Regions from separate parts of the Homo sapiens genome. Here all the other regions are linked to region 2. The links come from fine-mapping of genetic effects on gene expression. A gene starts in region 2. Each other region holds a variant in brackets. All regions are shown on one strand. Distances are between the middles of the regions.

The links. PIP is the estimated chance that this variant, and not a neighbour inherited with it, causes the effect.
Region 1: its variant is the best candidate, but not a certain one, in a credible set for the expression of AOAH in activated naive CD4 T cells (Schmiedel 2018, PIP 0.90).
Region 3: its variant is the best candidate, but not a certain one, in a credible set for the expression of AOAH in whole blood (INTERVAL, PIP 0.84).
Region 4: its variant is the best candidate, but not a certain one, in a credible set for the expression of AOAH in whole blood (TOPMed, PIP 0.76).

The regions. Positions count from the first base shown.
Region 1 is chr7:36,592,152-36,600,259 of GRCh38, reverse strand. It overlaps AOAH (acyloxyacyl hydrolase), which reads left to right. Exons shown (of 21, transcript NM_001637.4): 12 at 5,830-5,921. AOAH-IT1 (AOAH intronic transcript 1) reads left to right here and starts at 140. Exons shown (of 3, transcript NR_046764.1): 1 at 140-517; 2 at 1,954-2,099; 3 at 2,378-2,426. The variant G/TG (reference allele first, on the strand shown) is at 4,087.
Region 2 is chr7:36,721,030-36,729,137 of GRCh38, reverse strand. It overlaps AOAH (acyloxyacyl hydrolase), which reads left to right and starts at 4,644. Exons shown (of 21, transcript NM_001637.4): 1 at 4,644-5,116. The coding sequence starts at 4,990.
Region 3 is chr7:36,649,447-36,657,554 of GRCh38, reverse strand. All of the region lies in intron 4 of AOAH (acyloxyacyl hydrolase), which reads left to right. Among named protein-coding and RNA genes, the nearest start is that of AOAH-IT1, 53 kb to the right of the region's middle. RefSeq lists an enhancer at 3,111-3,655. The variant A/G (reference allele first, on the strand shown) is at 3,586.
Region 4 is chr7:36,577,525-36,585,632 of GRCh38, reverse strand. The region is part of intron 12 of AOAH (acyloxyacyl hydrolase); the gene reads left to right. Among named protein-coding and RNA genes, the nearest start is that of AOAH-IT1, 19 kb to the left of the region's middle. The variant T/C (reference allele first, on the strand shown) is at 3,621.

The DNA.
Region 1 (8,108 bases), 130 kb after region 2:
GTAGTTGCTCTAAAGTGTTTGTAGAAGGGAGAGAGGGAGGAGAGGAGGGAGGAAGGCTGCCTCACAGAGTTGTGTAATTGAATTGAACAATTTGTGCAAGTTTTTCCTGTCTCAGTGCCTGGCACATAAGGGGAACCCCGCATTAGTTCTCTTCCCCACTCTCGCTTAATGCAAGTTATCTGGGAAACAGCACATCCAAGCATCATGAGTAGGTTAGACATTTATTTGTAGGACAGATTCATGCAGCAGAGGCTACAGAAATGGGAGTCTGGCAGGAAAGTGTGTGTGAAAGCCAAGGAAGGCTCTGAAAGTTGCATAATGTGGTGCTCCCACAAGAAAGGCACTAAGGTAATGGGAGCGGTGGGGACCTGAGCAGATGGGAGGCAGTGTGGTGGCACGGTGGGACTGAGAGGCAGAAAGCAGGAGGAACCCTGCTTACCTTCTGCAAGCGCCACTGCAGGACAGACGGAGGAGGAGCCAACTAGCGGAACTGGGAGACCCATGGTTCCAACGCTAAGCAGGTAGCCCTTGTCTTTGATTCCCGGGCCTTGAAACTCTCCAGCGTTATTAAAAATACCAACCCAAGAGCTATTTTCTTTTTTTGGTAAAGTAACAATCCCCCATCTGCTTTGAGACTTTAATTCTGGGGAATGGATAAAACAATGCTTATTTAACTGGTGATGACATTTTTTATCTTTTTCCAACAGCAGTTACTTAGATTCCTCCAAGTGACTTTGTACTGTTTGAAAATAATCCATTCAGGTCTAATGCAGGTACATGTAATAGAAAAGGGAATATACTGTGTAGATTGTCCACAGCAGTGCAGGATGGAGAGAGCCCAAATGTAAACAGTGAAGGAAAGGCACTGAGGATACTCCCTGCTTTGCTGGAAGACTGGCAGAATCAGATGAATGAGGGATTGGTGTCATTACTCTCTTTCTCCCACACAACAAAGCTTTAAGAACATCAATTGCTTGCTGACATTAGGGCTTAAAATATTACCAAATTCGAATTATTGTATTTACTAAATATCCATCAAAAATGGGAACCAGTGGGCTTTCTCGATGCATGGAAATACACACACACATACCCACACACAGGGAAACGTTAAATGAAACTATTACACAAAATAGTAAACATGTGCCAACTATGCTGTAAAAATAAATATCTATCATTGATAAAGGTCAGAAGAAATTTTGAAGCAATGCGGTAGTGATCTAACACTCACTAGGTTGCTCACGCTCTTTAAGTTTGGAAAATTTTTCTTGGTAAATATTCAGTCTTTTTCACATATGTACATTTAAGGTACATTTAAAACGAGTTTCCTAAGAACATAAATGCTCAAGAGGAATAAGCAGGAGTTGATGAGGAAAATCTTAATTTGCATTCCTCCTGCCTCAAATGCCTGAAGTATCTTGGATATAATGTTGCGTGAATAAGGCTTTTAGTGTTTAATGTGATAGGACTTAAACATTCTCTTTTTGCTAGGGTCTATAAAACATTTGCTATTAATAGCCACTACTTTTCATTTTTATCTACCAAATTTACTAAGGAAAAAAAATATGCCAAGGCTTCTATTAGTGTGCTCAAACCTTTTCTATTATCTGGCAAATAAATGTCACTCCTCTTAAACCTGGGACAGTTCACTTGGAAAGGGACACTAGGTGGTCTGCCCTAAACATGATGCTTCACATAGTAGGGCTCTGACTTGTCAACCTGCTTCTGACTGTGTCTTTTGGTCTTCCTCACAGTTTTGCTGAAGTAAATAAGGTGATATTTCTATAGTCATTGGAGATACTGAAACTGAAATACATCTTCCCCAAGTTTGCACACTAATAACAGTAAAGCCTTGGCTTAACACCAGAAGTGAAGTCTAAAACATTCAACCAGGAAAGCACAGGTTTGCTATATTTTGAAGTTCATCGAGTGACCTGGTCTGCCTGGGCCTTCCAGGGCTCCCGCTGAGGAATACAAACTCACCCTGGCCCCAGTTGTGATTCAGCACCAGCCACTGTCCACTCCAGCTGAAATCCTAATGGGGATGATTCCAAGACTAACTAGTTTCTGAGATATCAGCAAGGATTCCAGGAATCTCCCAGGTAGCTGAGTCCCATTTCTTCAGATTAATCCACAGAGAACTGAGCTTGGAGAGTGTTAGCAACATGGAGATCCCACTTCCCAAGACAGGATTGCCTGCCGTTTTCCCACCTACCCTACCCCTCCTCTCGACATCCCCTCTTCCGCCACTGAAGACAAGAAGTTCATCACCCACCCCTGACCGAGAATGAGGGTTGCCGGGGGTATGGAACTTATTTCCAGTGGTGTCAGATCCAATCATGGAGTTTTCTTGATTTGTGTTTCTTCTTTGTATTTGTAGAGCCAGACGCAGAAGACAGATCATCCGATTTCTAGAGCAAAGCCCTTTCTCTACTTTGCTGGCACACTTCAGAATTATTTACCCCTCCCTTAGTGTGCCAGGCTACAGAGGGTATGCCTATGCCTGCGTAGTTCTTGTCTAACTCCTTCCTGTGAAAGGGAGAGCAGTCCCAGACAGAATCAGAAACCTAGTTCCTCATCCAGTTTCCCAAGTCTGGAGTTGCCATTGCACGGATGACAGAGAAAAAGGTGAGGGAGTGGGGTGGAAAAGAACCATATCATTCTTGTAAGTTTCAACGTGTTTTGCAGGTTACTGACTCAACACAGCTCATAAATTCTGCCTGCATCTCGCAAGCCACTTGCTTACTCACTATCTCTGCTAAACATATCTTGTGAGTTTCATCCATTCTATTTGTTTTTCTTGTCTTGTCTGGCAGAATGAATATTCTCATCCTACAGTAAACACACATTGTAAGCAGAAAGATGTAGGGAAAAATAAGATAAAACACAGAGAAAAGTTTTGCTTTGTAGTGGCAGGAGAAATAGAAACTCAAACAGATAATAGCTGAGTCACAGTAATGGTGGAGTCTCGAGCAGAAAGTGGTGGGTGCTGAATGCTAAGGGGTGACAAAGTACCTGTCACTGAGACTGCATGGTCCTCTGAGATTTACTGGGAGCTTTCTTTCTATGGGGTTGTTTCTGGTTTTTAAAGAGGATAAATCATCATTAATACAGGTGCATCCCAGGACGCCATACTTCCTGACCAACTCCTCCCTCTTCCAGCCCCTACCGTGCTGGAAATCACACTTAGGATAAGAATAAGGATGGAGGTTTCGTGGCATGTGTGGAAGGAGGAGGCAATTGAAGAAGGAGGAGCAGAGGAAGCTCAGAGACCCACAGAAAATATACAGGATATCATGGGATGACTGCTGCTGCGTTTGAACACATTTGTTTGTTCTAGGAATTATTTTGAAAGTAAACATAGTAAAGGGGTTCATGTCTTAGCCCTTTGAATAATAAAAGCAACAAGCATATTGTCCGATTCAAGCCATGTATTAGTTTCCTTGGCTGCCATATCAAAGTACCACAAGCTGGGTGGCTGAAAACAACGTAAATTGATTGCCCCAGAATTCTGGAGGCTGGAAGTCTGAGATCAAGATGTCAGCAGGGTTAGTTCCTTCTTGGGGGTCTGTGAAAACATTTATTCCATGCCTCTCTTCCAGCTTCTGGAGACAGCTGGCAATCTTTGCCATTAACTGGATTGCAGAAGCATCATTCAAATCTCTGCCTCCACCATTGCACGGCCTTCCCCCTGTGTCTTCATTTCTGTCTCTTCCTCCTCCTCTTCTTATAAGGACCAGTCATACTGGACTGGGGGCCCATCTTATTCCAGTATGACCTCTTCTTAACTAGTTACATCTGCAACGACTCTATTTCCAAACAAGGTCACATTCTGAGGTGGGGTTAAGACTTCAACACATCTTTTCGAGAAACATAATTCAACCCATAACAGTCCACAATTAAGAAATATAAATTTGCATTTTATTTATTTTGAGTGCTCATTCTCTATCTCTCTGAAAATAGGAGGATTGAGTTTTTCCCAGTTTAAAGATTTATGGTAGATTTCACGTATAAACTGTTTTATATATGACACAAACTGTTAACCGTGGTTATCTCACAAGAGTTATCTCTTAGGGGAAGGTGACGGGG[G/TG]GTGGGGGGGCTTTCATTTCTGCATTGTAAATGACTATAATGTTTGCATTTCTAAAACAAACCCATGTACTACCTTGCAATAAGAAAGAACAATGACATACTTTCAAGGAGTTAATGGCTTTTCTTTCCCTCGCAGCCTCTAGCATCAGAGTCTCCTTAGGAGAGGGATCTTCATGGATGAGGAAAAAAGCAGGAGGCCAGGGGCATGTGCCATTTGGAAAATTATGCTAAAGCTACAATTGTTTTGACATGCTTGTCTTTAGACATTACTTTATTTTAAATTTTAAAATAGCATTAAAGGAGGACTCAAGGTTTTCACATTTACCCGAAGGGAGCACGGATTTTCAATATTGAGAAATACAAAGGCTTCTTGCAGCCACTCATGGAGGCTTCCAGTCAGCGAAGGCAAAAAGGGAATATTGGCTTTTAAAGCTTTCATCCAAAGAAAGATGCCCAGATAAAATACAAGATACTCAGTCAAATTTGAGCTTAGGATAAATAACAAATTTTTCAAGTATAAGTATGTTCCAACCATTGCATGCATGAGACATACTAATCCAAAAAATTATTCCTTGTTTGCCTGAAATTCAAACCTAACTAGGCATCCTTTATTATTTATGTATGTATTTATTTATTTTTGAGACAGAGTCTTGCTCTGTTGCCCAGGATGGAGTACAGTGGGGTGTGATCATGGCTCACTGCAGCCTTGACGTCCTGGGCTCAAGCAATCCTCCTGTCTCAGCCTCCCATGTAGCTGGGACCACAGGCACATGCCATCATACCTAGCAAATTTGTTATTTTTTGTAGAAACCAATTTTAACTATGTTGCCCAGGCTGGTCTCAAACTCCTAGGCTCAAGCAGTCCTCCTGCTTCAGCCTCCCAAAGTGCTGGGATTACTGGCACAAGCCACAGCACCTGGCTGGTACCCTTTATTTTTATTTGCTAAATCTGGCAGCCCTATTCCAAACATACCAATTTAGATAAGCTTTTTCTAAAATTTAGACCACAGGAGAGATTAGTCCCAGAAGTCACTCATAAAAGGAGTAAAATGAGGTTGTAACTCATCACATTTTTCTTTGCTGATTTTGCACAAGCCATGGAAATGTGGTTCAAATGAATCCTATTTTTGTCAACACTTTGTATCAGGAGTTCTTGACAAATTGTGCAGGAGTTGCAGGGGGTCCGTGAGCCTCCTGAAATCACAGGCCAGGTTAAATACACGTGCATTTTTGTGGGGAAAGGAACCACAATTAGATTCTCAAAAATGTCTGAGACCCCCAAGAAGGTCAGAGGGCACCACCTTAATGCCTTAAGGCCATAGCTTTGAACCCAGGGAAGGCATTTTTTTCTGAGGGATTAGGCATTATTTTTCAGATTAATTACTTTTCAGATGATTGACTTTCTGATGGCCTAAACTGCAAAATGGAGAAAATCTCAGAAAATGTAAGAATGGGAAGTTTAGTCTGCTGAAGCATCCCTCCCAAGTGTTTGAGATGCCAAATGTTCTGCATGTTTCACAAGAGCTGAGCGGAAGCCAGGTCAAGGGTGGTGCTGATCATTGTGACTTCCCTGATGAAGTTGAAGGTTAGAGACATCTGCCTTGAATACCAAAAGCCCTTAAAGCGAGAGATTGAGAGTGGGAAACAGACACACAGAGAGCAACACTCAGGCCATGAATTTTCTTACTACCTTTAGAAAATAAATGACCATTTTGATAATTGCTACTTTATTGTTTTCCTTAGAACTCTTTCATCAATCTACCAACAGCCCTTACCAACGAGCTTGACTGGCCCCAACTCTCTGGTGCTACAGGATTTCTGGACTCCACTGTTGGGTAAGTGTCTTTGTGCACCCTCAGACATTTCAATACCTCTGTGTAAGGAAAGAACAAGAGATGGGGGTTGCTACCAAGATGTTGAAATGCGAATTATTAGGAACTGCTTCTAGAACATGAATTTGAGTTCATCCACCATACAGTAGGATGTAATGCAAATTGTATTTTAGCAGCACTGGCAAGAAAAGCATATTCCTGCTATGGGCAGGGTGGGGGTGGAGTTCCATAGTTTACCTCTGATGGAAAATACTAAACACATCACTGAAATTTTCTGATTCAAGGAAAAACAAAGTTTACTTATTTGTTCTCAGAAATAAATTTGTAAAGATAATGGCCAAAGCTGATTGGCACTTCTCAAAGTCCTAGAATCATCCTGGCTTTAATGCCCCAGATTTGTAGGTAGAGACCAGGCCTGGTGAGTTTGAATGACACACAAACCCAATTCACTACATATGCCTGGGTGTTAAGGCCTGGGGTCTGCTTCCCAGGGCCCACACTTGGCAGGGACACCTGTGATGCTGGTGAAACTTGGCAAGTGTCCCTAACATGGTAGTAAACCACAGATATGAGTCTATGGCCATCCCACCCTGAACACACCAGATCTTGTCTGATCTCTGGAAGGTAAGCAGGGCCTGGTTAGTACTTGGATGGGAGAATGTCACAGATATGAGAGGCAATTTCTCTCCCAACATCTCCTAAACATTTATGACAGTTAATAGGCACAAGGAAGATGGCAAATGAATGGCTTCCATGTGTAAAAAAGAAGAAAGGGTAGAGCTTTGCTTTTAGGTCTAAAGACAGGACAGAACCAGCTAGGAAGCCCCTCTCTGACTCAGGCAAAAATGGCAGAAGGCTGGAAAGCACCATGAGATAAGCCATGAGAACTGTGAGGAGGGCAAGTGTGCATGGGGTGTGATTTACCCAAATCTGTAAGGAACAGGAATGCCCCCAAAGGACAGACATTAATCATTTTAACAAGCAATTATTCTGATGAACAAAGAACATTGTGTGCCATGAATAATTTATTTGATGATTTTTATTCATCTGCTTTAAAAATATTTCTTAAATACTTAACCACCTAATCAGGCACAGATGTTACAGGTGTCCATTTAAAGGTAGATAGGGCTTGTCCCATCTTTGTAGTCAATTGCAATTAAGGCAGATGAGACAAGTGAACAAATAATGGTAATGCAAGGAAGATATACTAATGACAGGTCTCCTACAGAGCCACGGGGCTCCGAGGAAAAAGAGTTCATGGAAGTGATCAACAGTCACTTCCTTTGGGTGGGTAACACATGGGAGACTGGGGTCATAAAAGGGGCATAGAAGAAACTAGGAAGGGAACTAACCTTCAGGGAAGCGTACTCATATTTACATAGAAATAATCTGCCAATATAGGGAAAGCCAAGGAGATGTGTTTTCCAGTGTAGTTATACCTTTTCAAACTTAATCATGTTATTTTAAAAAAGGCTAGTCCTTGTCATTAGTGTAAAAATACTAAAATACTTACTAATAGGGATAGTAAGAAGTAACCTTTGAGAAGTAACAAGTAACTATATGCCAAGCATTTACTGAGTGTTGTATAGATATTCTCTCATTTAACCTCCTTGTGAGGTAGTGGGTATTGTTCTCTGCATTTGCAGTTGAGAGATCCAAGGGCAAATAGACAGAATAAGAATCTTGACCAAGGTTGCCCAGCCAAGAGTGGTAGGGTCTGTTTTCATGGAACCTTGTGTCATATCATAACAAAGATATGTTCTTGCCTCTCAAACTTTGTGTTGTTTTTATTCTTTGTGTGGGAATATGGCTCACTCTAACCATTGTCCCTCTGTGTGAGAGCATAGCTATGGGATGGAGAAATGACTAAGAACCAAGAGAAGTCCTCCCCATGTAGAGGTGTGGCCTGCACTATTTCAGTGACCCATCATATGCCTCCTTAGGGTCCCAATAAGCACAGACATCTGGGACTTTCTGAGTCCTAGCCTCAGTCCCATCTTCCCTCTGCTACAGCCTCTGTTGTCTTTACCTGGAACACATCCAGAGATAACCCAGCCAAAGCAGGTTTATAGAAGAGAGAACCTTGGTCATCCCCCCAATTTCAACATCAGAAAATAAAAAAATATATATGTTTAAATGCCCTCCACCCAGTCTAGTCATTTCTCAATAAAAGTATCTGGAATTTTCTCT
Region 2 (8,108 bases):
AACTAGTAGAAGGAAAAGGTGGGAAAATGCTTCAGGACATTGGTTTGGGCAAAGACTCTTTGGGTAAGAACTCAAAAGCATAGGCAATAAAAGCAAAAATAGACAAATGAGACTACATCAAGCTAAAAACTTTTTGCATAGCAAAGGAAACAATCAACAGAGTGAAGAGACAATCTGCAGAATGGGAGAAAATATTTGTAAACTACCTACCTGACAAGGAATTAATAGCCAGAATATACAAGGAGCTCAAACAACAGCAAAAAACCTGATTAGAAAATGGGCAAAGGATCTGAATAGATATTTCTCAAAAGAAGACATTCAAATGGCCAACAGGTATATTTAAAAATGCTCAGCATCATGAATCATGAGGGAAATGCAAATCAAAGTCACCCTGAAATATCATCTCACCCCAATTAAAATGGCTATCATCAAAAAGACAAAAATAACTGATGCTGGTAAGGATGCTTTGAAAGGGCACTACTAGCACACTGTTGGTGGGATTATAAATGGTACAGCCCACTATAGAAAACAGTATGGAGCTTCCTCAAACAACTAAAAATAGATCTAATATATAATCTATCAATCCCACTGCTGGTTATGTATTCAAAAGAAAATCAGTATGTTGGAAAGGTATACTGACATACTTTGTAGTATAAACCCATGTTTATTGCAGCACTAGCCACAGCAGTCAAGGTATGAAATCAACTTAAGTGTCCATCAACAGATAAATGGATAAAGAAAATGTGGTACATGTACACAATGGAATACCATCTGGCCATTAAGAAGAATGAAATCCTGTCATTTGCATCGACATGGATGAAACTGGAGGTTATTATGTTAAGTGAAATAAGCCAGGCACAGCAAGACAAATACTGCATGTTCTCACTCACTTGTGGAAACTAAAGAAGGTGATCTCAAGGAGGTAGAGAATAGAACGATAGATACCAGAGACTTGGAAGGGTGGGAAAGGGTGAATAAAGAGAGATTGATTAATGGCTACAGAAATACAGTTAGATGGAATAAGTCCTGGTGTTGAATAGCACAGTAGGGTGACTTTGGTTAACAACAATTCATTGTATATTTCAAAATAGCTGGAAAAGAGAATTTTAAATGTTTCCAAGACAAAGAAATGATACATATTTGAGATGACGGATATCCTAATTACCCTAATTTGATCATTACACATTGCATGCACGTATTGAAATGTCACATGTACACCAGAAATATGTACAGTTATTATGTAGCAATTTTTAAAATCTTGATTTAAAAAACTTCCCCCAAAATTTCAATGCTACTTGAGAAGAATAATGTGAATTCATTGTCAGCTTCACATTCATCTAACAGTTAATATTATGTTTTTAAATTCATGTTGTCTCTCTAATTCTCACAATTTTCTTAAATATTGACATTATATGCCCTATTCTATAGTAAAATAAACTGGTATTCTGAAAGGTGGAGCAGCTTACCCAGGGCACACAGCTACTAGGAGGGGAGCCCATGACACAGGCCCCCCATCCTAGCCCAGAGCTCTTTTAATGAGCCCCCATGCATCCTCAGCATGGGTTAATTTACCCTGTCCTTAGCAGACAGCAGAACAGAATAGAATGAGGCTAGCGTTAATAAGCTCTGACTGAGGAGGAGGGGAGCAGCAGAGGGCCTGGTTTTGGTAGATGGGAACTGAGGACTGCTGTACACAGTCCTGGGCAGCCAGGAGTAACAGGGCAGCATGGACCTGGGCCTTAGAGAGAGGAGAAAGTCTAAGACGAGACACGTGTTGGTGACAGTGCCAGCTTTTACAGGATCTCCCATCACCCACCTCTTTTTTTTTTTTTTTTTTTTCTGATTAAGGAACTTGCTGTGGATGAGGTGGTTGAGGCCAATGTGGTCAAAAAATATTCAGGAAGCATATTCATACTGAACAAGCAGACCACAGGTGCAACACTTGGGGATCACAAAGCCTTAGCCTTCCATGGCACAGGGGAAAGCAGTGGTTTGAATCAGAGCTGTTTGAGTGAAATCAGTAACAAAGTGCTTCAGGGAAGAAATCTCATTTTCAAGAGCAGATTTCGAGATGATTCAAAATTGGAACATCTGACAGTGGGGTCCTGCAGGAACATTCTCCAGGGCCTGACTAGTTGTTCTAAACCACAGGTAGGTCCAGGGCCTTTTGGCAAGCTGTGCAAAGATCCCAAGTCATTTGCACTCAGTACTTGATGAGCAAAGGCAGCCCTGTCAGGGGCAATGATACCAGCCAGTGTGAAGGACAACTGTGCAAATGGGAGGGTCCACTCCATCCTGGTGACGGAGAGGGATGTTTTGTTCAGTGGTCTGTGCACACGTGCACTTTGTTCCAGCTTCTGCTGGCGAAATCACTTTCTGATTTCTGCATTCTTCCTTTGATCATGCCCAGTAAGAACTCACCCTCCAAGCATGAAAAATCCTTCCATTACTGAAAACCTATGTGTCAGGTTTTACCATGATATATTCCTACGAAGTAGATAGTCTCACCTCCCTTTTCTAGCTGAGGACTGTCACCTCTGGAAACAGGAAGGGGCTTGCTCAATACTGCACAGCTAAGTCAGCGACTCCCACTGTGACCAGCCCCGAAGCCTGAGCACACTAGAGAGTTTCAGAGCCGACCATCCCTGGGATGGTTGTGAATGGCACTGCCTGGCCCACATACATGCGATGAAGGGCACAAAACTTGCATTTCCGGCATACCAAGAAATCCCTCTCACTCTAAGAGTTTCCAGACCTGCTCGCAGCTATACATTGAGACCAGGAGAGCCTCAAGAGGCCCAAAGCCTGTGTCAAATGCTCTTCCAGAAGCCCTCAGGAGAGTCCTCACCCATTTATGGATTAGACAAACTAGACCACACACTCCTGGAGTGCTGTAGCACAGCTGGAAGGTATTCAATAAATCCTCCCTTTTCCTGTCCTCACCATTTCCCATGTATGACATGATGGCCTACAACTACCATGGGCGTCTTGGAATTCTCTTGAAGCTGGTCTGGGGTGCAGGTTTCATCACACTCCTGCTAGAGTCATAGACAGATGCACTAAGCACTTACTTCTTGCCAGCCATGCTGCTTTGTTGTTTGGATACATCATGTATTCGAGTGCTTCCAGCAGCGCATTGGAGCGGATATTACCATTATCCCAATAGAAATGAGCTACTTGGGAGGCTGAGGTGGGAAGATCACTTGAACCCAGGAGGTCAACACTGCAGTGAGCTGTGATCACACCACTGCACTCCAGCCTGGATGAAAAAGCAAGGCCCTGTCTCAAAAAACAAACAAACAACAACAACAACAACAAAAACAAGACACTGAAGGGGGGAAAGTTACATCACTGGTCTAATATATTACTCAGAATAAACAGTAGACATGAGACGTAAGCATGAGCCTTTCTGTCTTCACAATCTGAGTTCCTAATCAATCAGTCCTTTATTTAGCCTCCCTTGGAAGTCTCTGGAACTTCTCTAGGCCTCACCCCTGTGGTGGTCCTAGTGACCCCAGAGCTCCCCTTAGTCACAGAGTGAAGAACTGAAGCAGCAGCACCTTAGAGTCAGAGGAAGTCACAGGCCCATGGACGCCTAACGATATCCTCAGTATTGGGCTGGAAGTGTAATTAGGGAAACACTCTGACTTGTGCTATCTCTGCAGCAGGTTTGGGAATTGTAGCCCCATCGGTGCTTGTAAGACTAATGACTGCACAAGAAATCTTCCAACCATAAAAACTGGTATTTCCTACATCCTGGAAAGGATGCTACTCTAAAACTTTGCCTGCTACTCCAAATGCTATTTTTTTTAATTGCTAACAATTTAGATAGCTTCTATAATATTTCAAAATTTGTAATAAGCTCCCTCAGAGCCTAAGCAGAGAGAAACAGAATCTCATGACCTCCTACACTTACCTAGACTGTGGTACTTTGGCCCTGTCCTCTTATCTTGACTGAGAATGGCATATGATTTTGTTTTATCTTATTTTAGAGAGAAACATTTAGATTATATGTCTTTTATCTATGATCTGGTTCCGATTTTTTTTTTCCCTCAGAAAGACAGTGTTCAGTTCTATTCTTCAGAGCAGAAAATCAGTCTCTTAACAAATCATCCACAAAATGCACTTCGAAATTCTGGAGAAAAAAAAGATGCATTGTGCACAGCCTAGCAACTGTGAATTGATTAATTCTAACCCATGTTTTTTCTCATTAGGTCTAAAATCCCACCATGCTAACTGCCCATTATTTTCTGTACTGTTTATTTTCTGCACACCAAATAAAAGGCCTTGACCCTTCAAGGAATAACCCAATTTCTCCAGAGGAAAGATATTATTTGACCAGAATATCCTTTTACAACAAAATAAGGATCACAACCTTACCATATAAAGCTGTTGAAAACAAGACTAAGTAAGTTCTGAATGTAACCAATTAGAATTTCTACAATATGTGGGTGCTGCTGATCAAATTGTTAAAGGGTTGTGTGCTTGTGGATTAGTTTTTTTTTTCTTTTTTCTTCTCAGTTTTGGCTTTAGTATCGTTTTGTTTTGTTTTGCAAGAATGAAAGGGGAAGGGCCTCCTAACCAACCCAACAGATCAGTTCCGGCAAGCCTCGAGGCTCACGGGGTTTATGCACACTAACTTCACTGAGCCAGGGAGCACGGAAGTTGTGCCACTGTGCAACTTGGGTTTTCTTTATCCTGCAGTCTTTACCTCAGCAGAACCGCACACCACAGACTCCCTCCAGCTCTTTGTGTGTGGCTCTCTCAGGGTCCAACAAGAGCAAGCTGTGGGTCTGTGAGTGTTTATGTGTGCTTTTATTCACTTCACACTTATTGAAAAGTGTGTATGTGAGAGGGTGGGGTGTGTGTGTCAAAGAGAGTGAGGAAGAGAAGGAGAGAGAGATCAATTGATTCTGCAGCCTCAGCTCCAGCATCCCTCAGTTGGGAGCTTCCAAAGCCGGGTGATCACTTGGGGTGCATAGCTCGGAGATGCAGTCCCCCTGGAAAATCCTTACGGTGGCGCCTCTATTCTTGCTCCTGTCTCTTCAGTCCTCGGCCTCTCCAGCCAACGATGACCAGTCCAGGCCCAGCCTCTCGAATGGGCACACCTGTGTAGGTATGCAAATAAATATTTTTGTATTTTCTATGTAGACATAACAATGGGATCCAGTACTTTGCTTGCGTAATAAATCACATATTTTATTAAATCAAGAATTGTAAGATTCCAGGTAAGGCACCAGTAACCTCACTGACACAGAGAAATGTGGAGTCTAAGAGTAGACATTGACACTACATACATCTATGTGAATAAAAAGCATACTAGTTTAAATTGGGCATAAAACTCTTCCACCTCATTGGCGATTGGAATTTTTTCTTCTTGTATAGGTAACTATTATTTCAGGCTATTTTAGTCTGAAATTTTTACTGCTTTTCATGGGCTTTGACCTCATATAAACACATCTGAGTTTGAATCACTGCCCTCCTCCTACCCTTCTCTCCCATTTCCTACTGGCTGTGGAAACCTGGAGCAATGTACTTAACCCTCTCCATGCTTCTGTGTCCTTATTGGTGAACTGAAGTGAGTGAGACCCATCTCATAGGGATACCATGGAAATTGTGACCATGCATGTAAATCTGTGGCATGTGCACACAGTAAGGACTCAACCATCTTAGCTTCCTTCCGTCTCTCAGAGAATCCAGATTTGGCGATCACCTGGAGACGCTGAGCGTTGATATGGCTTCTTGGCTCATCTGTTAATGAAGTGTTTTATTTCCAAGAGGTTTTTTTTGTTTGTTTTTTTTGGATGAGAGCAGGAAGTAAGGTAAGATCTTTGATATTCACATTGTAGCTCTCATAACATGGGAATTCTCATAATAGTGGTGGCATTTAGATGGTACAGTCCATGGAGCCACATAGACTCAGAACTCTGAGTAGTAAGTAATTGTTCAATGAGCAGACCTCAAAATACAATCCTAGCTTGAGAAGCCAGGAAAATAACTCTAGGATAAGTCTGATGGCTACATGCTGCAAATGGAAAATCTGGACACAGATTCTGACACTTAGGAATTGTTTCTGGAGACAATATGGAAATATATCTGAATTTGTCCTACTTCCTCAAAATCATGGCCTCAGGTCATTGTACATGTTAGGAGATGCATCTCTACTTCCAAAGTCCTTTTTTTTTTTTTTTTTTTTTTTTTTCTGAGATGGATTATCGCACTGTCACCTGGGCTGGAGTACAATGGTGCAGTCTCAGCTCACTGCAACCTCTGCCTCCCTGGTTCACACAATTCTCCTGCCTCAGCCTTCGGAGTAGCTGGGATTACAGATGCACACCACCACACCCAGCTAATTTTTTGTATTTTTAGTAGAGATGGGGTTTCCCTATGTTGGCCACACTGGTCTCGAACTCCTGACCTCGTGATCCGCCCCCCTTGGCTCCCAAAGTGCTGGGATTACAGGCATGAGCCACCGCGCCCAGCCTCCAAAGTCTTGTTTTAATTAAGACCCAGATTCCCCAAGACTATTTTCCAGAGACCTGAAGGCAGAGGTGTGTGGTCCTTTGAACCATGCCTGGGAGATCATCCTCCCCCAGTATTTGGTTTCCTTAAATAACTATTTGCCACCTTTTCATTTTTCTCAAAACAAAACCCTACTGCCCATCAAATGGAAATACACTTGAGAAAAGCTCAGATGAAATCAGTTTTACTTCTGGGCTCATTGCAAACTAAATGTTTGAGTTTGGGCAAGTTGTCAGGGCTGAGATCCTTGGACCTTCACTTCAGTAAAATGGACAGGAGGTACACATTCCTTTCTCTGCCCTGTTCCCAGTGAGGTCATAGAGGGTAAGAAGGAGGTGTTGGGGAGATTTCAGGATGGGGTTGCTCTGGTTTTTCTATTATTGCTGCATCAAAAATTACAATAATAACCATTTGTTGTATTATGATTTTATGGGTGAAAAATTTGTTCGAACACTGGCTGGTGATTCTTCTTCTCCATGTAGGAGTGACCGAGGTTAGGAGGTGGTATTCGGATGGTGGATTGATGGATCTGGGACTGACAAAAACAGCTTCACTCACATATTTGGCACCTTAGGGGTGAGGGAATGGCTAGAGGGTTGGCTCATCTGGGAGTGCCATCAGAGTGCCCACACATGGCTATCTTGGGTAGTAGGCTTTCTTACCTGGCAGCTTAGGAATCCCAGAGAGAATTCCAAAAGACAGGAATTAGAAGCTGCCAATCTTTCAAGTTTTGGGTCTGGAAACAGGCACAGCATTACTTGCCATCTTCCATTGCTCAAAGCATTCACAAGTTCCTCCACCCAGACTCAAAGGGAGGGGGCAGAGACCCTTCATTTTGATGGAGAGGGTCAAGAAATGTGTGGTCATCTCTATCATTCACAGAGGTTCACTTTGGTTGCCCATACAAATTCTCATGGCCCCAAGGGCTTGGAGACTCTGTTGCTGATTAGGTTTGAGGATGATTTAGCATCCATTTTCCCAGCAACTCCCAACTTCTTCTGGTTAACTCTGCCTGGGTGACTTATTCACCTGTTGTCATAATAGCAAGAAAGGTGGGTGCAAGAGGAGTCCAGTCTTGTGATGAACACTTACTGAGCACTGCCTATGTGCTGAGACAGGGGCTGAAGGTGGTCCAACTTGGTGCTTCACTGATTGAAGTTGGCTTTTGGGGGAGACAGGATTAGAAATGTGTGTGCAGGGGAGTTTATTGAGAAGTGCTCTTGGCAAAAAGACGAGCAAGAGAGGAAGGCAGTGGGGTTGGCAGAGAGAAGCCGGGCTGTGCTGCAGCCATAAAAGAAGTCCCACTGAGAGCTCTGGGACTAAAATAGCTCTTCAGAGTTGTCCTGAAGTAGGTGCAGGTCTTGGAATTCCCACATCAAACAGTCCCTCGATGTGACCTGACCACAGGGGAGGGCTGTAATTTTGAGACATCTCCCGTTGGTGGAGACAGTTCTGGCAAGGGACTCTGATGCTGGCATAATCCTTCAGACCAATGGCTCCAGAAGCTGGGGAGCGAGTGTCTCCTGATACGGGATCCTGGGGTGTACCTGCTGGAAGGGTTGTATGTGGGAAGCATCTCAGGAAGC
Region 3 (8,108 bases), 72 kb after region 2:
CAGATGACCCAGAAAAGAGGGACAATGGGTATACACATGGACAGCTTCACCCTCCTCTGCCTCTGAGCTTCCCCTGAATAGTAGTAACTGACATTGACTGGGCACTCACTTTGGGCCCAGTGCTGGTGTAGAGGCTCACACTTGATCTTGTTTTGTTCCCAAGCAGGCCTAGGTTGGAGGTGTCATTTCGACTCCTTTTTACAGTGGAGGAAACTGAGGGTTAGAGAAGTTATGTGACTTCCTGAAAGTCACTTCCCGAGGAAAGAACAGAACTGGGTTCACACCCCGGTTGTTCTACTCAGAGATTGGTTGAGCTCTAACGTGGTGTCAATGTTTCAGAAACTCCCCTGGGGTGTCTTCTTACAACAGTCAGCTGAAATCCTACCACCAGAAACAACTGATGTCGAAATGTGTGTTTCCTTTTAACTTTTCAAATAAATTATATTGTATTGAGAATTTATTTGAGAGTTATGATAATGCATATACAATTTTATACCCTACTTTGTTCCCTTAACATTACATTTTGAGCATCTAGTTTTCAGTGGTATATAGCAGACCTTTTTATCATTCTGCAAATCACTCCTACGTAGCACGTATGAATGCTCAGGTGGAATTACCTACCTGTTAGGGACAAACTGCCCCAAAAAAGCTTCTTGGTACTGCCAACACCCCCCACCAAACCTCTTTGTGCCACCCCTCCCCTTCCCCCAAGCCTTTTTACATTTCGAAGCCCTTATCTAGGTGCCGTGGTGAAGTCAGCAGACTTTACCTATCAGGCCTTGCAGCAATAAAGCAAACCCCAATTACAAACCATCCAGATGGCACAGGGGAAGGTCGCACAAAAAAAAGTCATAAAAAACGTAAACAAACTTTACTTACATCCTTCGGTACATAAACGTCACAAGGTGATATGTGGCAGAGTTAACCAACATACAACCCCAGGGTCTCTCTCCCCCATATAAACCCCTCATTTTGTAAGCTCAAGACTGCCTCCTCTGTCTGTAGTAGAGCAGCCGGCAAGTTAAATAAAGGCTTGCCTAAACTTGGGTCTCTCTCTCTCGTCCTTTCTCTCAGCTGACCTAACATTACCTACTAAGGGCGGGTGAAGACACAAATGCAGACGTAGATAATGTTCAGCCCTCCAGAAGGAATTCTCATGACTCTCCTAGTCAATAGTCCCCAGAGTAGCCACTATTCTGAAGTCTATCGCCACCGGCTAGTTCATTTTTAGGAAACTCTATCCTTGAATGTCGTATCAAAGGCCTCGCGCGGTATATGCTCCTTTGTGTCTGGCTTCTTCCACCTGTGAGTTTCATCCCGTGTTGGGTGAACAGCATCATTTCATGTAGAATTCCCCCAATCATCTTTTGATGTAGCTCCTGCACTACTGTCCCAGTGAGTCCAACCAAATCTGCTCTTTCCTTCTTTCTAATACATTTTTTTCCACATTGATGCCACAGATGCCTTGCTGTAGGAAAAATATGACCTTCCACCCCAGCCCAACCCTTTGCCTGGAAAGCAATTTCTCACTCTGTCCTTCCACTTGGTGGATTATTCCTCCCCATCGTTCATGGCTCAGCTTACATGTCACTTCTTCAGGGAGGCGGGCCCTATTAGATAGCCCTCTTATCATAGCTCCTGTATATTCCTTTCTTGAACTTGCCACTTTACAAGATATATTCCTGTGTGACTGCCTGCCTGTCTCTACCACTATCCTCTGAACTCCAGGAAGGCAAATTCTGTCTTGTTCACCACTCTATACCCAGTGTCTAGGACGGTGCCTCACACATACCAAGGAAATGTGTATTGACGCAATGAACGGGTAAAGTGCCACTAGCTTCTCATTTGCATCCCTGATGGAAATTCTGACTTTCCTCATGTGAAGGCCTCACTGATTTTCCCAGGGCATACTTATGATCCTGAACATAGTTTGGGATCTCCACGTTGCCTACACAACTAAGTACAAATTTTCACTTAGCTTTTCAGGACCTTCCAAAAGCCTTTCCAGACTTGCCTTTCCCTCTTAGGTTTGTGAATCCTGTGCTGCAGAGAGCAGCAAGTGACTGGCTCTGCCTTGAGCCATCCCCAACCCTCCCACCCTACACCTTGGATCTTCATCATTCCCTCTACCCAGATCACCTTTATCAACTCCATGCCATCCCTCAAGCTCATGTCAATGGTCACCTTCTCTGTAAAGTAATTCCTAACTATCCCAACAAAATGTTAACTCTCCTTTGAATAATCATTGTAAAATAACTGTTTGAGCACTTATAATGTGCTAACATTGTTCTAAATGCTTTATGTGTATTCATGCATTTAATCTTATGGAATAGGTATTGTTGTCCACCCTTTATAGATGACGAAGGTGTGGCAGAGAGACATCAAGATACTAGTTTCTAGTTTCGTAGATTTCCTCACTAAGATGCAAGCACATGGGGGTGGGCAGGCCTGTACCTTGCCTGTCTGTCTTTGTTCTCTCCACCATGCCAGGCACATACTTACTTGGTATATGGATAAAAATGAAAATAGCAGAAGTTGGTATTTATTGATGGCCTGCCAGCCGCTGCACTTAACGTGCGTGATCTCATTTAACTGTGCTGTTAGGTCCATATTTATTTTACAGTTGAGGAATTTTGAGACTTGGAGAAGTTAAGGGATTTTCCCAGGCTATACAGCTAGTGAGGAATACAAGAGGATTTATCTAGGGTCTGTTTTTCTTAAAAGTCCAAATTCTCATTCACCGTGCTCTCTGCCTCACTGAGACTCCGTAGGTGTTGTCACATTGAATGGAACCACTGCTCCTGGGCCAGCTAATTCCTCATAAGCAGGACTCTGCACGCTCTATGTCTGGCTTTTCACACATTTCAGACTCTAGTACAATATAAATAATGTGACGCAAGCAGTCTCCCCTGTGATATACATGCTGCAGGGATGGAGAGGATGGATGGGCCCCTCTGTAGCAGGGAGCTCATAGCGCAGAAGCAAGCAGAGCAGAGCAACAGAGATCTGGCTTCAGTGAGGCCAAAAGTTAAAGGTGGAACTGCATTTGGGGCTCACAGTGAACCCCTATTCATCATCTACAGCCCACCTGAAATTCCAGGCCCACTTCTTGCCGGTCCTGTGGACGTGTCTCCCTACCACTATCTACTGTGTGCTCAAAAAGGACAAACTTCATCCATAACTAATTAAAGCAAGAAAAATCTACGATGTCCCACTGGTACAAGAAGAAGAAGAAAAAGGAGAGAGGAGAAAAGGAGGAAGAGAAGAGGGACAGGAAGGAAAGGGAAGGAAAAATAGCTGCAGGCCTCACTGCAAAGACCACCCAGGTGGTTTTGTGTTACGTATCTTGGGAGTTTATTTTTACCGCTCCTCTCATTTGCACATGAAACAGCGCATTGATTGCTGCTGCTGTGTGTGTGTGTGTGTACGCACACACGCACAGGGATGCATGCACGTGACTGGCTCTCCCTTGAGCCCTCCCCAACCCTCCCACCATGTCCAAAACCATGATTCTAACACCACAGCTCACAAATTGAAAACCGAATGCAACTTATTCGTGTGTATCCAGTGGTTCTTTAAAGCTCT[A/G]TTTTTTGGATCAGAATGTTACATTGCATGAGCCCCTGCTTGAGCCAGAAGCATCCTGGAGCCTCCTTAGCTTTAAGCCACTCCCGTTTGGGTCCCTGAACTTGAGATCTCCAGGCAGACCTCGTAGCTTTGAACTGACTCCTTTCCTAACCACAGCAGTGCTGGAGGAACATGCTGCATTTACCAACATCTCCAAGGCACACTCAAGACTTACTTCAGCCACTTTGATCTACATTAAAAGAGAATCATATTCAGAATGTAAGCCCTGTGTGGAGAGAGGTTCTCCTTATTTCCCTGGGGCCTCCTGAACTGCTGGGTGGCAGGGAGACCTGCTGCCTTAGGAAAGCAACCCAGACTTTGAAACAGCTTTTCCCACAGTGAGTTGCATTTCTACAAGAACCAAAAGCTCTCTGATGCTGAGTGTGGGGGAGGGTGTGTATGCACAGGGAATCATATTTCCCTGGAATCCAAACTACCAGGAAAGTGACATAAATGGGTTTGGCAAGAAGTAAATTTTCACTCTTTATATGAGAAAGTGACGCATGACAAATTATGTTTCGCCTAAGCAATAAACAAGCTGACCTCAGGAATTCACTTTTATTTTTTAAACACTAGGTGTCAAATAAAATACCTGGCATCTCTTTTAGTAGACTGTCTCAGGTGGTAGTGTTTAGAAAAAGAATCACAGATAGACAGGAAATTGGACACTTCCTGAGATTCTGTAATCACTAAATTTCATTCTGCACAATCCAAAGAACCTGATGCTCATAATGCTGTTTTTAGCCCTATGAGCTCACAGCACACTGTCACATGTGTTATTGTCTAGTCTCCCCCAAACTCTGTTATTTCAAATAAACGTTTTTTGGTAATAATTTCAGATTTATAAAAAGTTGTGAGGATACTGCAAGAGAGTATACTGTTCACCCAAGTTTAATTCCCCACAATGTGAACACATTACTATTACTTAGTCAAAACTAAAGAAGTCAGTATTACTACTGTATATACCTTAGTAGCAAATCAAGTCCAGACTTTATTTGGATTACACATGCTTCTCCTCTAATGTCCTCTTCTGTTCCAGGATCTAGTCGAGGACACGCATTGCATTTCTTTTTCATGTCTCTTTAGTGTCCTCTGGTCTGTGACAGAGTCTTCATCTTTCCTTGTTTTTCATGACCTTGGCAGTTTTCAAGGATACAGGTTAAGTACGTCGGTAAAATGTTCCTCGAATTGGGATTTGTTTGATGTCTTCATCTTGGTTCGACAGTGTTAGGGGTTTTTGGAAAGAACACCACAGAGGTGAAGCACCCTTTTCATCACATCCTATCAGGGTTAAATGATGCCACATGGCATTGCTGGTGAGATCACCCTTCATCACTCGGTGAAAGGGTCATTTGCCAGGTTTCCCAACTGCAAAGTCACTATTTTCCCCCTTTTCCTTTACTCAGTTCTTTAGAAGTGAGTCTTTAAGTCCAGCCTGCACTCAGTGAGGCCAGGGAGGACCAAGCCCCTGCTCCCAGAACATGGAATATCTACACATATCTTTTGAAATTCTTCTATGTAAAAAACATCTCTCTCCTCCCTAATTTATTGAATTAGCCAATCATTTATTTATATTAGCACAGATTCATGTATACGTATTTTATACTTTGAGTTATAATTCAAATATACACTATTTTATTGCACAAATTTTTCCAGTTTTCCAGTTTTGCTACCATTGGAAGCTTAGGGTGGCTCCTGTGTCCTTTTGACATGCCTCTGTCCTATTTTTTTTTTGTTCCATACTACTTTATGTTCTGGTACTACCAGATGATCCAGGCTCATCTTGTTATCTTATATTCTTCTGCCCCTGTCCTTGAATCAGCATGTCCCGAAGGAGACCTGGTTCCTTTTACTGGAAAATGGTATTTGGAAACCAAGATCTGGGTGCTAGGTATGCCCATTGCTACTGGGATGTCATTGCTTATTGGCCTTCTTAGGTCCTGGTCTTCTTTGTGGAGTGCTAAGTAAAGTATATGTGTATACAACCCATGTATACACAAATACCTACAATTGTTACTGTGTCTGTATGTGTGTCTCTGTGTGTGTGTATGTGGATGTGAGCTCATACTGATATCTCTAATTTTAACCCAGTATCACAGGTCAAACTCTATTTTATAGGTAAAATTATCAAACATATTTTGCAGTTGAGGCTTAAAGCCTTTACTCAAAGCTCATAAGTAGTGAGTGGAATCTGAACTCAACCCAGGGCCCTGGACTTTAGACCTCCAGCTCTTCACATCAGCACTGCCTGTGTTTAGCATAGATTCTGGAGCACATTCAGAATAGTCACTTCTCAGAGCCAGAGGGAATTAAAGGCAGCTTTAGTTTTAGTTTTCATAAAATATCATAAACAGCTTAATTTTCAAGAATCTTGCACAATATCCCAACTTTCTCAGTAACAATGAAACCACTGACATGTTCGCTTACTTAGTCATACCTCAACAAACATTTCTTGAACACTTACCATGTACCATCCCCACAGCCGGGTACCCTAATAAGTTATCTTTTTTTAACTATCCCAAGTCTGTAGGACAAATATGATTCTGTCATTTTATAAATAAGTCTACTGATACCTAGAGAACTGAGAGACTTTCCTGAAGTCCCATACTTTCTACAGAATAATTGTTTTTCTTTTTATCAGCCAACAAATATTTATGTAGAATAAATTAAGTAGAACAGTATTCCAGCACATATGGCATGCGATAGCAATGTAAATGGATATTCTAGCAGGAGGCTATAGACAAACAGTGAGGAAGAGAGAAGTGCTGTCACACAGGGTGCAAGGAGGAACAGAAACCCCAGCAGACGAGGGCTGAGCTGGTCCTGGAGGGAACAGGAGTGGAGGTGACTCCTTCAGGGTAGAGTAGAGTTCACCCAGCACACTCCACCTCGCCTGCGTCAGCCCCTTGTGCTGGGCCCTTTCCCTAGAACTCCCAGTTCCCTGCATGGCCAGCGCCTTGTTCCCCTGCTGGTTTAAGTACCCCCTCTCCAGGAAGACCCTCCCTGACCAACCTCTCTGAAGAAGGTCCCCTTTCCTGCTCTCTCACACCACTTTATTTCTTTGATACCGTCTGAACACAAGGACCGTGTCTTTCTTGCTCACCATCTTATTCCTGGACTGGCATAGTACCTGGCACATAGTAGGTGCTCTGTAAGATTTGTTTAGTAAAAAATAGGATGAGAACGGCAGTCCTGAACATACCTTACCTTCTCCCTTGTGAGGATGTATCTGGTCTCAGTGGACTATATGAGAGTTCAAAGCATTCGGCTTCTTTGAGAATGTGAAGCAGTTTTCAGAAATAAACATAGGGTTCATCCCAGGGCGCCTGCTCTGGTATTCCTGGGTAGGGTTTGAGCATCTGCATTTGCATAACGCTTTTGACGAGCACTGAAGGGTGAGAACTGTTGTGCTGGAGGCTGGCCTAAGCCTGAAAGCTGTCATTGACAAGTCTGAAAGCACTGTCCCTTCTCTTGCTTCTCACCTCCCACACATCCAAAACCATGCATCCCCACTTGCCCTCTAACTGCATCCTTTTCCCCAACCATTCCTTGATTTCTACCCCTTTTCTGATTGATTTATCAACTTAACCTCAGCTATTGGGTTTCCAGTCCCCAGCCCCCTAGGAATAAGGCCTCTTAGAAAGACAGAGAGAACTAGAAGTTTTAGACCCAAACTATTTGGAATTCATTCTTTTTCTACGGATTTTCTCAAAACAGTGTTCTTGTTACCAAGGGGTCCTTGCTCCCAGAGCTCCCAAGACGGTGGTGGGCCACTTCCAAGACGGTGGTGGGCCGCTTCCAAGACGGTGGTGGGCCGCTTCCAAGATGGCAGAAGCCACTTCCAAGATGGTGGCAAGCCTCATGTTCTCTGACCTGGGGTTCTTGGCCTCACGGATTCCAAGGAATGGAATCTTGGGCCATGCAGTGAGTGTTATAGCTCTATTAGAAACCATGGGTCACAGAAGAGAACCGTGGAACCCAGTGACTAGTGTTCAGCTCGATTAGGATGAATCCAGGCATTTAGCCATGCAGGAACAATGGTGAGTCTTTAGCCCAATGGAGAGCGGCAATGGGCGCCTCACTGGATCAGGAGCACAGCGGACACCCTGCCAGATCTGAAGAGATGGAAGTTAGCGGTAGGTCTGCCACGGCGGCAAACAGCAGTGGTGGACAGCAAGTGAAAGCTCAGCTCAAGTCGTAACAAACACAGACCAGAAGAGAGTGCAATTGCAAGATTTAATAGAGTGAAAACAGAGCTCCCAAACAATGGGAGGGGACCCAAAGAGGGTATCCATTGCCGGCTAGAATGCCTGGGTTTACATCCCGATCATTATCCCTCCTGCTGTGCTCTCAGGCGATAGATGATTGGCTATTTCTTTACCTCCTGTTTTTGCCTAGTTAGCATTTTAGTAAGCTCTCTTTCCTACCTGATTGGTCGGGTGTGAGCTAAGTTGCAAGCGCCATGTTTAAAAGCGGATGCAGTC
Region 4 (8,108 bases), 140 kb after region 2:
ACTGCATAGTGTTTCATAGCATAGTTATTTTTTTCTCCTACAGGTGGACATCCAACTTATATCCAGAGTATCATTATTCTTCGTAATGCTGCAATGAGCATTTTGTACTGACTCTTTGGAATATGTGTGAGGATTTCTTAAGAAAAAATTATTGGACCCAAATGTTTACATTTTTAATTTTAATAAGGCCTCCAAATGGGCTATACCAATTTATATTCCCACAATTAGTATATGAGAATATTTGTTTTCCCACACCCTTGCCAATACTGGATATTGTTCATCTTCTTAATTTTTTCCACTATAACAACAACATTGTATTGTTGTTCTCACTTGTAACCTCCTGACTACTAGTGAGTTTGAGCATCTTTTCACAGGCATCGCCCGTTGTCTTTGTCCTATCTAGTCGCCCTCTGCCCATGCTGCAGCACCTACCCCTCAGGGATCATCCCCCAGCCTCTCTGTCTTCAGCTACATTTCTTTTTTATACCCCTCCAGACAGCCCCTTCATACTGACCCCCCATCTAACTGGATGATTATTTTCTGAGATCCTATCATGTCCTTCAATACCAATGTCACCTCACTTATAATACCTGTTTACTACTTGTCTCATGCTCCACCTTCCCATGCCCAGACTCTGAGCATCCTGAGTATGGGAATCAGGTGACTTCATTTTGTAGCCCTCTTACCTGGCACAGTACATGACACATGGCAGGTGCTCAATAAAAGAATTGCTGAACCAGCTCATAAGGATATCAGTTTGCCCATGTAGAGTGCTTTACAATCTGCAAACCTCCTTCATGTGCATTTTGTCAGATTATCTAAATCAAATAAGATTTGTTGGGATTAACATTTTGGGGGAAATAGGCAAAGGAGTATAGCTGAATTAGCAACTGCATGATGTGATATGTAAAAATATGTAAAAATAAATCAGCGTAAGTTAAACCCTTGGAATTCTAAGTGTGTCCTATAATAAGTATTCTGCAAGAAATTAGCAAAATTAATTAAAATATTAAATCACACAATTAACATTAAAATATTAGCCATATGTAATCAACAAATAGGAGAAAATGAATTTAAAAGAAACATCAATTCAGTAGCCAAGTGGAAAAAATGAAATAAAGAGATTTGCTAAGAAGTGAATTTGGCTAATGATAAGTCAAACCTTGATGTGAATTTTTGCCCAGAATGATGTAATTTTGCAACCCAGATTAATCAAAGTAAATGAACACTCTACAGATTTCTCTAGTAGAATCGTTGTAACCAACTGAACTTGAGATTTTAGGCCACCTCAATGCTTAAATACAGATCACAGAGATAATTCATCAATATTCTTCATAAACTCTTCTGCGAAATATGAGTTCCACAAAATGTTAAAGGGTACTAACACACATTTCTTAAAAGACGTGTTAAGTCAAATAAGTTTTGGAAATGTTAATTTAAATAAAGGGAAACAAGCTTATTTGGTATAAGGCTTATTATAGCCTTCACTATGCGAAAAAGCATTGTATATCCTCAAAAAATATAAAACATTCAAAAATATATAAAACATTTCCTAAACTTATTTGACCACAGAACTATGTAGAATTTGTGTGTGTGTTTTATGAGAAAAATTCAAAGAAACTGGTGTTTCACAGAACATCCTTTGAGAAATGCCGTTTAGGTCATTAAAACCATCTGCTATGTCACAAGTAATCTTTTCAGATGTATAAGCCTCCACAGCCTTAAATGTCTCCACTTTATCACAGTTTAATGTTCACCCTAATACAGTGGCCTAGAATCAAATCTGGGGCTGGGAAAGGCCAGGATGGAGAGAGCTACACCTGCTTCAAGCTCAGAGAACAGGAGGGGAGGAAATCTTAGTGAGAGGTTAACCTAACAGGTAGGAAGCCTTGTCTGAGCCCAGCAGCTCATGAATTATTGAACACAATGCCTATGAAGTCTTTTTCCCTGTACTATTTTTCTGGTCCAAATTCAAAATTTATCATGCTGTCCTGCTAATCTTTTTGTATGTGAACTCCTAGGACCTCCTCTGTAGCCATCCTCACCTCTGCATAATTAGCTTATTGCCAGTCTCTCTGAGTCCACGGTGAGTCATATTCTGTATGTTTATCACTCTCTGAGGCTACATCTTAGTTGTTCTATGATGTAGTGAGTTAGGGGTTACACAGAACTCTGGGATGTGGCTAATATCAAAGGACTGAAAGGAATCTTAAAAGGTCTTTAATCTATCTCCCTGGCCCTATGCTGGCCTGACCTCCATCCACATTAGAAAGAAAGTTATCCACCCTTTTCTTAAATTTTCCTAGCAGAAAAGGTCCCTGGATAAAGCCTTAAAGCCTGTCTAGTCTCTAAGTTACCCAAGTTTATCCTAATTTACTCCCCTCCCTAACTCTTCACATCAAATATCCCCAGGTATTTCTCACCAACCCTACTGCTGGAGCCTGTTTTTTGTAACTTATTCCCTAAGATTCAACTTAATGGAGACTCATAATTTATACCCAAGCAAGCTGTGCCTCTGGACAGAGTCAGAAATTGCCTAACAAGAGGATCACCTGAGGTCAGGAGTTCAAAACCAGCCTGACCAACATGGTGAAACCCTGTCTCTACTAAAATTACAAAAATTAGCTGGGCATGGTGGCATGCGCTTATAATCCCAGCTACTCAGGAGGCTGGGACAGGAGAATTGCTTGAACCCAGGAGGTGGAGGTTGCAGTGAGCCGAGATCATGCCACTGCACTCCAGCCTGGGTGACAGAGTGAGACTCTGTCTCAAAAAAAAAAAAGACACTGACTAAGAAATTTCATCAGAATATGCTACATCACTCTTGCTTGAATCATATCACATCTGGTTTACCTCAGAGATCTCTGGCAGGCTACAAAGCCTTTGGAAGAACTCCATTTTTGCCTCTCTCCAAATAGGTTCTGCCTTGAGTCAACATGGGAGGCCATCTTTTATTTCATTTTAAATCAACCTGTTTAATTTGTCTACATTACTCTTGAGGCCCATTCTTGATATTACTCTGTTTTGTTCTACCGAAATGCAGTGGGGGAAGGCATTAGGAAGCTCTCAGAAAAAGTGATTTTTTTGTGTTCCCTGAGCCAATGTTGGGAAGAGTAACAGCCATTCTGTTTGAGTTTTACTCATTTTGAATTACGGTGCTAGAAATCAAAACCCAATCAGTGTGTTTTCACATGAAATGCCTGTACTGCCAGGCCCTCCAGTAGAAGGAGCTGGTGAAACTGGAAAGTTAACGTGACTCACTTCCATGCCTATGCCTGGAGTTGAGGATTCAGTTCTGTAGGCATTGGGCAAAGTGTGGAGAAAAGAACTTTTAAGTACCCGTCTTGTGCATCCCTCAACTTACAAGCCCAAAAGCAGTCACCTCCTCCTAGCACATTGGACCGGATTTTGATATATACAACAGAGCAGAAAGAGAAAAATAAAAGATCACACTGGAACACTGGATTTTTGTGGAGAAAGGAGAGCAAGAGGAAGAGGATTTGAGGCCAGAATCATCATGATAGTTTAGCCTCATTATGCATAGCATCCTAGTAGCCTCAGCTTGTCCTATGACTACAAGCTCAAGACCCTGCATATATATAATTTTCTATTAAGCTATC[T/C]TCTCAATTTGCAGGCATATCAAAATATTATATTGATCCCACTATATACTCAGGATTTCTGAGCACTCCTTGAGAAATGCAGTTCCTAAAATATATAAGAGAGATTATAGATTCGGGATGGGGATGAAAGAAAGCAGTATCTTTTACTATGTGAAATACTTTCTAGTGCTTGGTACAAGGCTTTCATCCCAAAATTCTAGATGCTATTTCTAGTCAGAAATGTTATTAGAACTATCTCCTATTGGTAAAGATTTCTATATTCTTATAATGAAAGGTGCAACTAACTGTATCTATAATATTAATACCTACACTATTTACTCTTCATGAGCAGGACATGAGCAAAACAATATTTTGGTATATAAATTCCATTCTCAGAATGATCAAAAATACATTTGTGACTAAATAGGTAAGAATTACTTTCCCAAAGAAAAATAACCCCTCTTTATTGACCATAAAATTATTTTAGTATCAAACTCAGATCCAGTGTCCATTTCCCATCTGTTTTTCCAAAATATAATAAAATACTCAAGGCAGAGGGCATAAGTGACGCAGTGTATAAGGTATCCATTTCAGGCTTTTGAGTAAGATAGCAGATTGAACACAAGCACTTACATCTCTCCCTTGAAAAGCCCTACTCTAACGACAGTAAATGAATTTGTCCAAGAGGACGAAGAGAACAAGAAGAGCCAACAGCCACAAAACGTTGGAAGCTAGAAATCAGACAGATGAATGGTAACTGACTTAGTAGATTCAGGAGAGCTGCATCCTAAGCTGGTTGGAGGGAATGCCAAGAAGCAACCCAGTTCACACTGCAGAAGCCCCAGAAGACTTGGGGATTGGTTACATGTGGGAGCTGTAGAAATGCAGGTGAGGCTAAACCAGAAGTATTGGTTGGAAGATTGCTGAAGAGCAGTTAGCTCCTCAGACCCCTTCCAACTCTCCACAGGTGGTCAACTGCCCCTCCCATACTCTGGAATAAGACTAGAGCTTTATTCTCTGGAAACACTAAAGTCAAGGGCCTCTGGACTGGAAGACACCAAACATAAATGAGGAGAGGAGTATCCTACGGAAACACATGAATGCTAAATGTTGAGGACCCTTCCCTACATGCCCCAGAGTGTTGCCAACCCAGCCTGTACTCTCCTGGCTGCAGACTAGAAGATCCTTCCCTGGGGAATCTGAACAGCCCAAGAGGAGAGTCCCACAGATGCTGACAGCAGGGTTCCCCAAGAAAGGCCCAGACAGCTCATCTTGCAGTGAGGGCTGTAGTCAACAAGCACAGCCAGGGGCCCAGCTTCCAATCAAAATCAATTAGCTTTTTAGCTGGCAACTAGTTTCAACATTTAAAAATAAGCCTATAACCCAGGATCATCACACATCTGAAGGAAACCTCAAACATGAAAGAAAATACAGAAACAAAGGGGAAAAAAAGCAACTTAGAGAAACACAGACTATGTACTAAGGGGGATAAAACTTTTTAGAAAGTTTAATAGCCTACATATTAAAATAACTGAAATTAATATCTTCAAAAAGATAAAAGAATTCTATAGCAGACAAGTGCTTCAAAAAAGGATAAAAGAAGATGTTACATTCATAAAACAAGAACATTAAAATTAAAAAGATATTCAGAGAACCAATAAGGTCATTTGGAAATTATTCTGGTAATAGCAGACGACATTCATAGAAAGATTAAAAAATAAAGTTGAGGATATTATCCAGAAAATGGAGAAAAAGGTCCATGACATGAAAATAGGACAGAGAAACAGGGAAAATTACAAGACCGGTTCAGATGACCCAATAGTTGTAGGGAAAAAAGAGAAAGGAAGAAATCATCAGTGAAATAATTTAAGGACATCTCTCAAAACTGAACATCATGAATTTCCAAGTTGAAAGGGTTTATCAAAGGTCTAACACTATGAGTAAAATCAGACACACACCAAGACTGCCATCATAACATTTCAGAACACTTGGAATGAGGTGCTACCATAGGCTTTCAAAAGATCAAGACACAGAGTTGCTTCATACTTAACAATGCTGGGGAGGCTAAAAGCCAAAATCAATCAATTCCTTCAGACTTGTGAGGGAAAAATATCATAACTGTGATGGTTAATACTGAGTGTCAACTTGATTGGATTGAAGTATACAAGGTATCGATCCTGGGTGTGTCTGTGAGGGTGTTGCCAAAGGAGATTAACATTTGAGTCAGTGGTCTGGGAAAGGCAGACCCAACCTTAATCTGGGTGGGCACAATCTAATCAGCTGCCAGCATGGCTAGAATATAACCAGGCAGAAAAAATGTGCAAAGAGAGACTGGCCTGGCCTCCCAGGCTACATCTTTCTCCCATGCTGGATGCTTCCTGCCCTTGAATATCAGACTCCAAGTTCTTCAGTTTTGGAACTTGAACTGGTTCTCCTTGCTCCTCAGCCTGCCTACAGCCTATTATGGGACCTTGTGAGAGTGTGAGTTAATACTAAAAACCCCCCCATATATATATATATTCATTCCATTAGTTCTGTCCCTCTAGAGAACCCTGACTAATACCTAATACAGATTTATGTTATTGTTGTATAACAAACTGCCCCAAACTTTCATGGCTTAAAACAATAGTCGTTTTATTATATCTCACAATTTGGGGGGGGCGGGGTTCAGGAATTCAAGCAGAGCTTGGCTGGCCAATTATTCCTCTCTATATGAAATTATGGTTACTCAGTGACATCACCTAATGGCTGGGCTGGGCTGGGCTGGGCTGGAGAATCCAAGATGGCTTCACTCACATGATGTGCCTGGGAAGGGACAGCTGGCAAGGCTGAGTTCAGTTCAGCTACATAGGGCCATTTTTTTTTTAAGCAGTTTTAGGCTTATGAAAAATTTGAGGTGATTGAAACATGGAGGCGGATTTCTCACACATGGTTAAGCACCATCCCTGTTGGTACTGTCCTCAGGATAGGGAGTGAGTTCTCATGAAATCTTGTCATTTAAATGTGTGTAGCACATTTGCTTGTTCTCCTGCTCTGCTTTTTCCATGTGACATGCCTGTTCCCCTTTTGCCTTCTGCCATGATTAGAAGCTTCCTGAGACCTCCCCAGAAACAGATGCTGCTATGCTTCCTTTACACCCTGCAGAACCATAAGCCAATTAAACCCCTTTTCTTATAAATTACCCAGTCTCAGGTATTCCTTTATAGCAATATGAGAATAGACTAATACAATGATAAATACTTAGAAAATTAAGGAAAGAAACAAAAGGCAGTTATTAACTCTACAGAAATAAAAAAGTTAGAAAGAAATTAGAAAGCAATCATTGATTAGTTGTCAATAGCTAAATCCTCTTCTAGAGTAGGAAGTGAACAGATAATGTCAAAGACTAACAATCAAGAAGTAGCCTTAAAAGTATGTTACTTAGAGATGAGGAGAAAAACATCAAAAGACCTAGTCAATTAAGGCTGGAATTAGTTGCCTATGGAAATGGAAAAATGGAGAGTGGAGGGAGGTGTGGGGTTGCTATTTATCATCACAAGTCTTATATACACACATAGGTAAGTTATTTGGTTCTGTGAGACTCACCACCTCAAGTCTTTGTTGATTTTAGCTTCTCAATTAGACTTCCTTTGGCTACTCTAATTCTCATTTCCTTTCTTCATAGAATTTAGAACTTTCTAGCATACTCTATCATTTGCTTTTTTATAATGTTTAGTTCTTTTATTGGCCTTTTCCTGTTGAAATATCAACAACACAGAAGCAGGGATCATGTATTTTAATTTTCCAATATAACTCAGTGCCTAGAATAATACTTGGAATGTAGCAGGTGCTCAATAAGCATCTATTAAGTAAATTACTTTTTAAACTATGTGCATGGGTAGCTTTGATTTTAAAAAATAAATACATTATTCATCTCAAAATTCTACTACAAAGCAAAAATCTCACACTTAAAATATTGCTCAGGCATCTTGGTCTTGTATTAAAAAACACTATCATTGGTTTTCTCAGACTTCAAAAAAGGGATACTATTTTCTATGCATCCTGAATGCCCAAACATAATATATGCTTACCTTTCTGAAGCACTGAGACAGTTGCCAAGCACTGTAATACAATTAGTAAGCTTTCATATAACACTTAATAATTGGTGATTGTATGTAAGGTTGTGAGATGTGAACTTATTATAATGAAAAGAAGATACAATACATTTGAAGATTACTCAAATATTTTGAGCTAAGTTATTATTTTTTAGTTTACATCTGGTCTTATTTCAAAGATTTTAGGAAGCCTATGAAAGTTTAGAGAACATAACATTTAATTACATTTAAACTAAATTTTGTTGCATTAATTAAACTACTTACATCTATATTAAGCGAAAGAAAATGAAAAATCAAAGATGAGACAAAAAGGAGCCAAGAAAATGAGTTAAAATATATATAATTATAGCCTGATACTGGTGTCAAATTTTTCCGTAAGCTCTGTGTTTATTAGTATTAGATTCAAGGAACAGAG